Linked DNA regions of Homo sapiens. The protein of the gene in region 1 purifies or fractionates together with the protein of each later gene. This does not show direct contact. Each region holds a gene or a part of one and is shown on either strand. Other genes may lie near its edges.

Region 1 (3,751 bases):
GTACTTTCATGAGACTGCGTCTTTGGTCTCATTTTCTTTCAAGTCTCTTATTTTGTCTAATGGATCTTACACCTCTTCTCACTTCTCTATCCAGGGTGGGGCTTTCTCTTTCTGGGAATTATCTGTATTCTGCTACCCCTAGGTCCTGCAACCTCTCCTCTTTTTTTACAGTCTCCACCTTGCTTGCCACTTCTCCATGGATTCTGCTAGACTGCAGTGTTGATTTCCCTGCATGCCCATAGACATTTTGCTAGCTATTAATGTATGCTTACATATCAATAAATTTGTATGGGTTTTCTCTTGTTAACCTACTGTTAGTTTAGTTCAGCCAACTCAGTTATCAAACCTTCAGAAGCGAAATTTAAGCTTCCCTGCAAATTGCTGGTTATTATTTAATATTATTTTGACACAGGGTCTCACTCTGTTGCCCAGGCTGGAGTGCAGTGGCGCAATCACAGCTCACTGTAGCCTTGACCTCCTGCGTTCAAGAGATCCTCCGACCTCTCTCAGCTTCCTAAGTACCTGGGACTACAGGTGTGTGCCACTACGCCCAGTTAATTTTTTTATTTTTTATTTTTTTTAAGAGACAAGCTTTCGCCATGTTGCCCAGGATGGCTGGTCTCAAACTTCTGGGCTCAAGCAATCTTCCTGCCTCAGCCCCGCAAAGTGCTGGGATTACAGGCATTAGCCACCGTGTCCAGCTGGTATTATTTTTATTAGTGTTCTATCTTGCACTTCTGAGTATGTTTAAGCTTCCACCTGTCAGCTTCAAGGGCTTTTTTCTCCCAGCTAATGCCTAAAAGGCAAACAACCTTATTCTACTTCTCATTCACCCTCCTCTTTTCCTCCCATTTTTTTGCGGGTTATATTATTTCTACAATGTCAGACCATGTAATATTTATATACTATTCTATCATCATTATCCTCATCTTTTAATCTTGATGCTACACACAAAATATATTTGATTTGCTCACCACCTGACCTTATGTTGAAGATTTTCCAATCATTTCTTGGTTGTCTGAAATTTGTTCTCTAGTATACGCTTCAGAAGGATTCATGGGAACAATTATAGCCATTTTCCTTGAATTATTTCATGTTTATAAATGTTTGTCAATGCCCTGAATTCTTGAAGGGTAGTTTGGTGAGATAGGAATTATTTTATTTCTTTGAATAAATACTTTCTTAATATCTGACATAAAATGTTGCCACCAAAAATCCAATCTGATTTTCTTTGCAAGTGACCTGCTCTTTTTATTTCCCCCATCAATGCAAGAAGGGTTTATTTTTAAAAATCCAACAATTTTACAGGACCACATCTCAGTGTTAACTGTTGTGGGTTGATTTCTCCAGGTTTACAGTATGCCTTTCAACATATGTTACATTTAAACCTACTTTAATGTTAAGCGTTCTTGAATTACAGTCCTAATAGTTGTTCTGGTCCATTGCTTTGGCTTGCTTTGTTTTACTGTAGTAAAATAAGGAACATAAAATTTACTGTTTTAAAGTATTCAATAAGTGGCATTAAGTATATTCAGTGTTACATAAACATCACCACTATCCTTGGGCTTACATTTGGGGAACTCCATTTATATTTATTCTGGCTCTCTTTGCCTGTCTTGTCACCTCTTGACTCCTTTTTAAAAATCTTTTTATTTTCTTCATTTTTCCATTTTTCTTATCGTACTTTCTGTGATGTATATTCACTCTTGGTTTCTAATGCAATCATCACTTTAAACTGTCTTTTTCTTAATCTTTTATTGAGTTTTGTCTGCTCTCATTGCACCTCCTTCTATGGTCTAGCCATCTCATTTCTTTTTTTCCCCTGAAAACATAGAAAGAGGTGAATTTTATTTACTTTTTTATAATTTCAAGTTCTCTTTTAGATTTGGGGGTACATGTGCAGATTTGTTACATGGGTATACTGTGTAACGCTGAAGTCTGGAGTATGACAGATCCTGTCATCCAGGTACTGGGCATTATACTCAACAGTTAGTTTTTCAACACTTATTGCATTCCTTCCCTGCATAGTATTCCACGGTTCATATGTAACCAATCTATCCCTGATGGACACATAGGTTGATTCCACATCTTTGCTATTGTGACTAGCACTATGATGAACATATGAGTGCATGTATCTTTTTGGTAGAACAATTTCTTTTGGATATACACCCAATAATGGGATTGCTGGTCAAATGGTAGTTCTGAGTTTTTTGAGAAACCTTCAAACTGATTTCCACAGTGGCTGAACTAATTTACACTCCCACCAACCGTGTGTAAGTGTTCCCTTTACTCTGCAGCCTTGCCCACATCTGTTGTTTTTTGACTTTTTAGTAAGAGCCATTCTGACTGGCGTGAGATGATGTCTCATTATGGTTTTGATTTGCATTTCTCTGATGATTAGTGATGTGGAACATTTTTTCATCTGTTTATTGGCCACTTGTTCTTTTGAGAAGTGTCTGTTGATGTCTTTTGACCACTTTTTAATGGGTTTTTTTTTTTTTTTTTTTTGCTTGTTGAATTAACTTCCTTATAGATTCTGGATATTAGACCTTTGTCAGATGCATAGTTTGCAAATATTTTCTCCTATTCTGCAGGTTATCTGTTTGCTCTGTTAATAGTTTCTCTTACTGTGCAGAAGCTCTTTAGTTTAATTAGGTCCTACTTGTCAACTTTTGTTTTTGTTGCAATTGCTTTTGAAGACTTAGTCATAAATTCTTTCCCAAGGCTGATGTCCAGAATGTTTCCTAGATTTTTTCCTAGGATTCTTACTGTTTGAGTTCTTACATTTAAATCTTTAATCCATCTTGAATTGATTTTTGTATGTGGTGTAAGGTAGAAGTCCAGTTTTGTATGTGGTGTAAGGTAGAAGCCCAGTCTTATACACATGGCTAGCCAGTTATCCCAGCACCATTTATTGAATAGGAAGTTCTTTCTCCATTGCTTCCTTTTGTCAATTTTGTTGACCAGATGGCTGTGGGTGTACAGCTTAATTTCTGGGCTCTCTATTCTGCTCCATTGGCCTATATGTCTGTTTTTGTACCAGTACCATGCTTTTTTGGTTACTGTAGCCTCAAAGTATAATTTGAAACAAGCTACACATTCAGTAGCACTGAATGTGTAGCTTGTTTTGGGCAGTATGGCGATTCTAATGATATTGATTCTTCCAATCCATGAGCATGGAGTGTTTTTCCATTTGTTTGTGTCATCAATGATTTCTTTCAGCAGTGTCTTGTAGTTCTTGTAGAGATCTTTCACTTCCTTGGTTAGAGGTATTCCTAGGCAGTGTGTGTGTGTGTGTGTGTGTGTGTGTGTGTGTGTGTGTGTGTATGGCTATCGTAAACAGGACTGCATTCTTGATTTGGCTCTCTGCTCCAACATTATTGGTATAGAAACGCTACTGATTTTTGTACAGAGTTTGTATCCTGAAACTTACTGAAGTTATCAGTTCCAAGAGCCTTTGGTGGAGTCTTTAGGGTTTTCTAGGTATACAATCAGATCATCAGCCAAGAGAGATAGTCTGACTTCTTTTCCTATGTGGATGCCTTTTGTTTCTCTTGCCTGATTGCTCTGGCTAGAACTTCCTACGTATCTCATGTCTGAGCTCTTATTTCTGAATTTATGTGGTTCTTTCAAAGATTTCATCTTTTCCTTAAATTCTCTTAGCTTACTCTGAAATATTTAGATTGTCATTTTCATCTGCTTTGTGGCCACATTTTTGGGGTATGTTTTCATAATCTCGTGCAATGTTTTA
Region 2 (3,751 bases), on another chromosome or scaffold:
ACTCTGTCTCAAAAAAAAGAGTGAGCTAATTTCACCCATAATGTTACTATACAAATCGTAAGAATAATCAATAAGGTTAAAACATGGCTAAAGGCTCATTAAGAGTAACCTGAAGTCAGAGATTTATACTTAAGGGTGACAATATGGCGTAGTAAAAAAAGCACATACTCTGAAATAAGACGAGCATGGTATGAATTGCGTTCTTGCATCTGTGTTAACTTGATCAGCATACTTTGGCTTGCCGAATCTCAACGTTAATAACTCTAAAATGAGGTTAATGACATCCGTCTGACACCTGAGACAAATATCTTTCTCCCTCTGATAGTGATGCTTATAATAATGGCTTATGTTTCTAGGAGAGACCTTAAAATTAACTTTTTCAGAGAATTAGAAAGATTAGATTTCAGGTTTCTGATTTAAGATTTTAGAATCTCACCTCTCTCCCAAGGTCCCAATTAAGGCAAAGGAATACAAATAATAACCATATATCTGAGGACAGAATGAGAGGAGCTATTAGATGAAATTTCAATAAATTTCTAGGAGTTGAAAAGTGGACATAAGGGTGCTGTCTCAGGAAATGGAGAGAAAGCTGCAGGCTAGAATGTGAATGGAGAGTATAGTAGAGGAGACGGCAGATATGCCCAGCAGACAATCCTAAGGGGTTCTGAAACAAAACTGCGCAATAAGGAATGAGGGAAGGAGAAGTGGGGCTGAAAACAAGCCCCTGGCGTAACTGCCCACTCATGTCCATGAGTCTTAAATCCACAGAGCTCCCAGTCAGCAGCTTTTCTATTCCTCTTTTTTTTTTGAGACGGAGTCTGGCTCTGTCGCCCAGGCCAGGCTGGAGTGCAATGGTGCGATCTTGGCGCACTGCAACCTCTGCCTCTTGGGTTCAAGGGATTCTCCTGCCTCAGCCTCCGGAGTAGCTGGGATTACTGGCATGTGCCACTACGCCCGGCTGATTTTTGTATTTTTAGTAGAGACGGGGCTTAACCATGTTGGCCAGGCTGGTCTCAAACACCTTAGGTGATCCACCCGCCTCAGCCTCCCAAAGTGCTGGGATTACAGGCATGAGCCACTGCACCCAGCCCCATACACGGTTTTTAATGAAATTATTTTAATGTACTCCAAATAATATTCCAGTAAAATGAGGCTAAAATTTAAAAAGGAAGCTATGAGATATAAAAAGTGGTGTGTCCAGCCGGGCGCGGTGGCTCACTCCTGTAATCCCAGAGCTTTGGGAGGCTGAAGCGGGTGGATCATCTGAGGTCAGGAGTTTGAGACCAGCCTGCCCAACATTGCAAAACACTGTCTCTACTAAAAATACAATAATTAGCCAGGCATGTTGGCAGGTGCCTGTAATGCCAGCTACTCGGGAGGCTAAGGCAGGAGAATTGCTTGAACTTGGGAGGCAGAGGTTGCAGTGAGCCAAGATCACGCCATTGCACTCCAGCCTGGGTGACAGAGTGAGGCTCTGCCCCAAGAAAAAAAAAATAATAATAAAGTGGTGTGTCCACTGAAGAGATATCTCAAGATGATAGCTACGAAGCTGATCAAGAAAGGAATCAGTCAAAACTAGAACATGAAGTTGGCAGGTTGAAGAAAATATAATAATATCATGAAATATACAGATTATAAAGGATGAAAAATATCACGGACAGGGTGGAAAGTGGCCTATTTCTTCCCCCCACGCCCCCCCCACCAAAAAAAAATCAAGCAGAAAGGCAACCAAAAATTCCAACAGAAATTAAAACTATATTTTAAAAGTCAAAGTCCGAATTTGAAACAAACTTAAATGTGTTACAATTTTTAGATAGCATGGCTGGGCACAGTGGTCCACGCCTATAATCCCAGCACTTTGGGAGGCTGAGGAGGGCAGATCACCTGAGGTCAGGAGTTCAAGACCAGTCTAGTCAACATGGTGAAACCCTGTCTCTACTAAAAATACAAAAAGTAGCTGGGCATGGTGGCACATGCTTGTAGTCCCAGCTACTGGGGAGGCTGAGGCAGGAGAATCGCTTGAACCTGGGAGGCGGAGGTTGCAGTGAGTCAAGATCATGCCACTGCACTCCAGCCTGGGTGACAGAGCAACACTCTATCTCAAAAAAAAAAAAAAAAAAAAAAAAAAAAATTGAGATAGTTCAGCAAGGAATGAGAAAGAAAATCCACTTGACCTTGAATGAGAAGGAAGTTAGGACAGTGGACCGCAGTGCAGAATAACACTTGGCTGTTTTGTGAATAATACTTACAATACTGTTAAGTGCTCATCATCAGCTTATAAATTTTAAGTCTATAGACAAAGCATGATAAACTTAATTACAGTTATAGAACACAATGTAAATGCCTTCAAATTTGATAATATGAAAGTAAAGTTTCACCTGACAGAAGATGGGAAATGGAACAGGGAAGAGATAGAGGAATGACTGGGGAAGCTAATACCCCTATCTTCCTAAGAAGGTAAAGTTAATACTGAAAGTTGATAGGATAACAAATAGAAAGTTATGTACAATATTTAAGGTTACAAAGGTAACCAACAAGTGTAAAAATAGAGGGATTCAACTATCAAAAGTTTGGAGGTGCTGGTTGGGTACAGTGGCTCATGCCTGTGTTCCCAGCACTTTGGGAAACAGAGGTGGGTGGATCACTTGAGCCCAGGAGTTTGAAACCCCAACTCTATAAAAAATAAAAAAACTGGCCAGGTGTGGTGGCATGTGCCTGTGGTCCCAGCTACTCAGGAGGCTGAGACGGGAGGATCACTTGAGCTCCAGAGGTGGAGGCTGCAGTGAGCTGAGATTGAGCCACTGCACTCCAGCTTGGGCAACACAGAGGGACCCCGTCGAAAAGAAAAGAAAAGAGAAGAGAAAAGAAAAACGAAAATAAACGAAAAGAAACGAAAAGAAAAAAGAAAAGAAGGGGCTGGGCACGGTGGCTCACGCTTATAATCCCAGCACCTTGGGAGGCCGAGGCGGGCAGATCACAAGGTCAGGAGTTCGAGACCAGCCTGGCCAATATAGTGAAACGCCGTCTCTACTAAAAATACAAAAATTAGCCGGGCATGGTGGCGGGCACCTGTACTCCCAGCTACTTGGGAGGCTGAGGTAGGAGAATTGCTTGAAACCGGGAGGCGGAGGTTGTAGTGAGCCGAGAGTACACCACTGCACTCCAGCCTGGGCGACAGAGCGAGACTCCGACTCAAAAAAAAAAAAAAAAAGAGAAAAGAAAAAGAAAATGAAAAAAAGAAAAAGTTGGGAGGCAGTGAGGAGGGGGTGGTGTGAGATTCAGCATGACCTTTACTCTCTTGGAAAAATAAGGAGAAGCTTCACTAGTCATTTCTCTGTCTCTCCTGTCAGTGGAAAGTCTAAACATGTTGTTTAGAATTACAGAAGTCCATCATTAAAGGACTAAAACAAAAAATGATTAAATTAATTGAGGCCAGGCCCAGTGGCTCTGCCTGTAATTCCAGCACTTTGGGAGGCCAAGGCAGGCAGATCTCCTGAGCTCCGCAGTTCCACACTGCCCCAGGCAATATGGTGAAACCCCATCTCTCCTAAAATACAAAAAATTAGCAGGGTGTGATGGCATGCACCTGTAGTCTCAGCTACTCGGGAGACTGAGGCAGGAGGTTGCAGTGAGCTGTGATTGTGCTACTGCACTCCAGCTTGGGCTGCAGAGTGACACTCCATCTCAAAATAATAATAATAATAATAATAATAATGGGGAACAGGCCGGGTGCGGTGGCTCACGCCTGTAA
Region 3 (3,751 bases), on another chromosome or scaffold:
ACGCTGTCCAGCATTTCCTGCATGCCACACACGCAGTACTCCATCACCATATACGTGGGGCGCTAAGGACACACAGCTCAGGGGGCGGCCCCACTCACAGGCCCAGGGAGCACGGGGGCCAGAAAAGGGGCTCTGGAGGGACCCTCTGCACCCACCTTGCCCCTCCTCGGGACCAGGGCCCACCCTGCCCTCAGCCACCCCTCTGAAAAGGCCCAGGGGCCCCAGCGTCCCAGGAGGAAGGAGCCTACGGGGAAGGGGAGGACAGGGCTGACTCTTGGGGCAGCGTTCCTGCGGGGCTCACGTCCCCCACCCTGCCCATGGGCGGGGGATGGTGCCTCCTGGACGCCCCCCCAAGCAGGCTCGGGCCCATGCAGGACGGTCCCAGGGCCCCTGACCGCGTGGCTCAGGGAACACAGCCCCAGCCTCAGGACCACTTCTGGCTCTTGCTCTGGGCACAGGGCCTTAGGAAGCAAAGTCCCCGTAGGGAGGCTGTGCCCGTAAGACCCATGGGGGTGTCCACAGATGACACGAGGACACGCCCAGCCACGACCAAAATGGCCCACAACGGTCAGCCCGCGTGGCCTGTCTCAGGCAGACCGTGGCTACACCCCTGGTTAGCCTGGGAGGAGACTCTGAGAAAAAAGGGACTTGACACCCCACGGGCCCAAGACACAGGGGCCAGGGCTCAGGGCCCCTTTCAGCAAGCTGCGCAGCCATTGCCACAATGGCTGACTTCCGGGGAACCAGGGAAGGCCACGGCCCTCGTGTGCCAGTCTCCTTCAAGGAGACGGGAAGAGGAGCAGGCCTCGAGGCAGGCGGACCCAGGGCCCCAGCCCCTCCCACGGAGGCCCCGCGGTCCCAACACCGGAAAGGATATATTTTCTGCTTCTCTTCGTTGTATAACACATCCACCAGCTGGATGACATTTTTGTGCCGTAACCTCCTCAGTAGTTGAATTTCCCTGGGACAGAGAGGACAGGGGTGTATCAGCCGACCCAACGTCAGGATGATGGCCTGGATCCCTGGAGTCGGCCTCCCCATCTCCCTGTGGAAGTGGCGTACCTCCTCCCTTCCCTAGAGAGAAGCTGTGAGTTCACAGTGCTGTGGGAAAGGGCCCTGCAGGGGCCACGCGTCCAGGCTCAGGGCGGTAGGGGGTGGGAGCACAGCGCCCTCTAGTCTGTCATCGGCCGGCGAGGGCTTTGGAGGACACAGTTAGGACACTTTTTTTTTTTTCTGAGACAGAGTCTTGCTCTGTCCCTAGGCTGGAGCACGGTGGCCCGATCTCAGCTCACTGCAACCTCTGCCTCCCAGGTTCAAGTGATTTCCCTGCCTCAGCCTCCCGAGTAGCTGGGACTACAGGCACGTGTCACCACAGCCGGCTAATTTTTTTGTATTTTAGTACAGACAGGGTTTCACCATGTTGGCCAGGATGGTCTCGATCTCCTGACCTTGTGATCCGCCCGCCTCGGCCTCCCAAAGGACACTCTTAATTGAGCTTTGTAACTCAGTAACAGTTTTGCTTCCTAGAAACCAGACTACTGCAATGGTAGCACAGATGGAGCCCAGACTGTGGCAGGAGCCAGGGTGAGTTGGAGCCCTGGTGATGGCTCCGTCACACAGTACAGTCCCACGCAGCCAAGGGCTCCCAACTCCGAGGGTCCCACTCCTTGGAGGGTGGGCCGCAGGTGAGCTGGAAGGATGGCCCATAGGAAGGGGCAGGCGAAGAAGGAGACGCCACAGAAAGAGACATTGTGGGGTCCTGCCACACCCACCCGCCTGTCACTGCCCCCTCTGCAGCTGCCGCCCAGTTGGCCACGCCCACCTGCCTGTCACAAGGGTGGGGCACAACAGGCCAGAGAGCACAGCCCCCTCTGCAGCTGCCGCCCTGTCGCAGACACTTCATTTCTCCCAGCACTATAGGAGGCCGAGGCGGGTGGATCACCTGAGCTCAGGAGTTCGAGACCAGCCTGAGCAACACGGCGAAACCCTGTCTCTACTAAAAATACAAAAATTAGCCAGGTGTGGAGGTACGTGCCTCAAGTCCTAGCTACTCGGGAGGCTCAGGTGGGAGGATCACTTGAGCCTGTAGTTACCTGTGATCGTGCTACTGCACTCCAGCCTGGACAACAGAATAAGACCCTGTCTCATAAAAGAAAAAATTAAACAAAAACAAAAATGACGAGGAGCAAGGTCCTCACACCCAGTGGGTGGGCGTGGAAGCGTCTGCAGCTTCTCCAAAGGTCTGTTACCCTGTGAGCCAGCAGCTCCACTCCCAGGTACACACCCTGAGGAACAGTACACGCCACGCAGAAACGGAGCACGAGATGCTCACAGCAGCAGGACGCACAGCAGCCGAGATGTGGAACCACCCAGGGGCCCTTCCACAGACGAGGATCAGCACAGCCCATCCACGCACTCAACAAGACTCAGCCACAAAAACCAGTGAGGCTCTGACTCGAGCCACAGCCTAGCTGCACCTTGAGGATGTCACAGTGAGACACTAAAGGACACACAGTGTGTGATGCACTTTTTTTTTTTTTTTTGAGACAGGGTTTCCCTGTCGCCCAGGCTGGAGTGCACCTCCCAGGCTCAAGCGATCCTCCCATCTCAGCCCCGCAAGTAGCTGGGACTACAGACGTGTGCTACCATGCCCAGCTAATTTTTGTATTTTAGTAGAGACAGTTTCACCGTGCTGCCCAGGCTGGTCTCGTTTGAACTACTAGGCTCAAGTCATCTGCCCACCTCGGCCTCGGAAAACGCTGGGATGACAGGATCCCATTTCTTGTTTTTTTTTTTTTGGAGACGGAGTCTCACTCTGTCGCCAGGCCAGAGTGCAATGGCATGATCTCAGCTCACTGCAACCTCTGCCTCCCGGGTTCAAGCGATTTCTCCTGACTCAGCCCCTGAGTCGCTGGGACTACAGGTGCCCGCAACCACGCCCAGCTAATTTTTGTATTTTTAGTAGAGATGGGGTTTCACCATGTTGGCCAGGATGGTCTGGATCTCTTGCTCTCGTGAGTCACCGCGCCCGGCCGACAGGATCCCATTTCTATGCAATATCCAGGACAAGCCAATCCAGAGCCAGGAAGTGGATTCAGAGTGGCCAGGAGCTGGTGGAGGGGATGGAGAGTGACACAATGGGAATGGGGCTTGCTTTTGGGGTGACCGAACGTTCTGGAATTAGAAGTAGTGGTTGCACAGCCGTGTGAATGTACTTAATGCCACTGAATTGTACACTGTGAACGAATGAGTTGTACAGTATGTAAATTCCATCTCCATAGTTTTTTTTTTCTTTTTTAATTCTTAACAGGAAGCCCAAGCATGGAGCATAAAAAACAGCTGGGGGGCCAGGCGCGGTGACTCACGCCTGTAATCCCGACACTATGGGAGGCCGAGGTGGATCACCTGAGGTCAGGAGTTCGAAACCAGCCTGGCCAACATGGTGAAACCTTGTCTCTACTAAAAATACAAAAATTAGCCGGGCGTGGTGATGGGCGCCTGTAATCCCAGCTACTCAGGAGGCTGAGGCAGGAGAATCGCTTGAACCTGGGAGGCGGAGGTTGCAGAGAGTCGAGATCTCACCACTGCACTCCAGCCTGGGTGACAGAGCAAGACTCCATCTCAAAAAAAAAACTTGGGGTGTCAGGGGTATCCCACGACCCAGCCTTCCCCACCCCCAGCTCAGGGCTGCCTCTTGCAGGAAGCCTTGGCTCACCTTTCCCTCCCAGTGCACCAGTCCCAGGGCTCATTG

Evidence for each region.
Region 2: the proteins of CAB39L (region 1) and STRADA purify together in Homo sapiens (affinity purification with mass spectrometry; 3 studies listed by BioGRID and IntAct, with this or other methods). This does not show direct contact.
Region 3: the proteins of CAB39L (region 1) and STK11 purify together in Homo sapiens (affinity purification with mass spectrometry; 4 studies listed by BioGRID and IntAct, with this or other methods). This does not show direct contact.

Annotation. Positions count from the first base shown.
Region 1 is NC_000013.11:49,437,434-49,441,184, forward strand, and holds part of CAB39L (calcium-binding protein 39-like), read right to left. Parts: intron 1-3,751. UniProt on the Homo sapiens protein: Component of a complex that binds and activates STK11/LKB1. In the complex, required to stabilize the interaction between CAB39/MO25 (CAB39/MO25alpha or CAB39L/MO25beta) and STK11/LKB1.
Region 2 is NC_000017.11:63,735,147-63,738,897, forward strand, and holds part of STRADA (STE20-related kinase adapter protein alpha), read right to left. Parts: intron 1-3,751. UniProt on the Homo sapiens protein: Pseudokinase which, in complex with CAB39/MO25 (CAB39/MO25alpha or CAB39L/MO25beta), binds to and activates STK11/LKB1.
Region 3 is NC_000019.10:1,215,627-1,219,377, reverse strand, and holds part of STK11 (serine/threonine-protein kinase STK11), read right to left. Parts: intron 3,111-3,751; exon of another isoform or gene 2,980-3,110; intron 962-2,979; coding exon 878-961; intron 55-877; coding exon 1-54. UniProt on the Homo sapiens protein: Tumor suppressor serine/threonine-protein kinase that controls the activity of AMP-activated protein kinase (AMPK) family members, thereby playing a role in various processes such as cell metabolism, cell polarity, apoptosis and DNA damage response.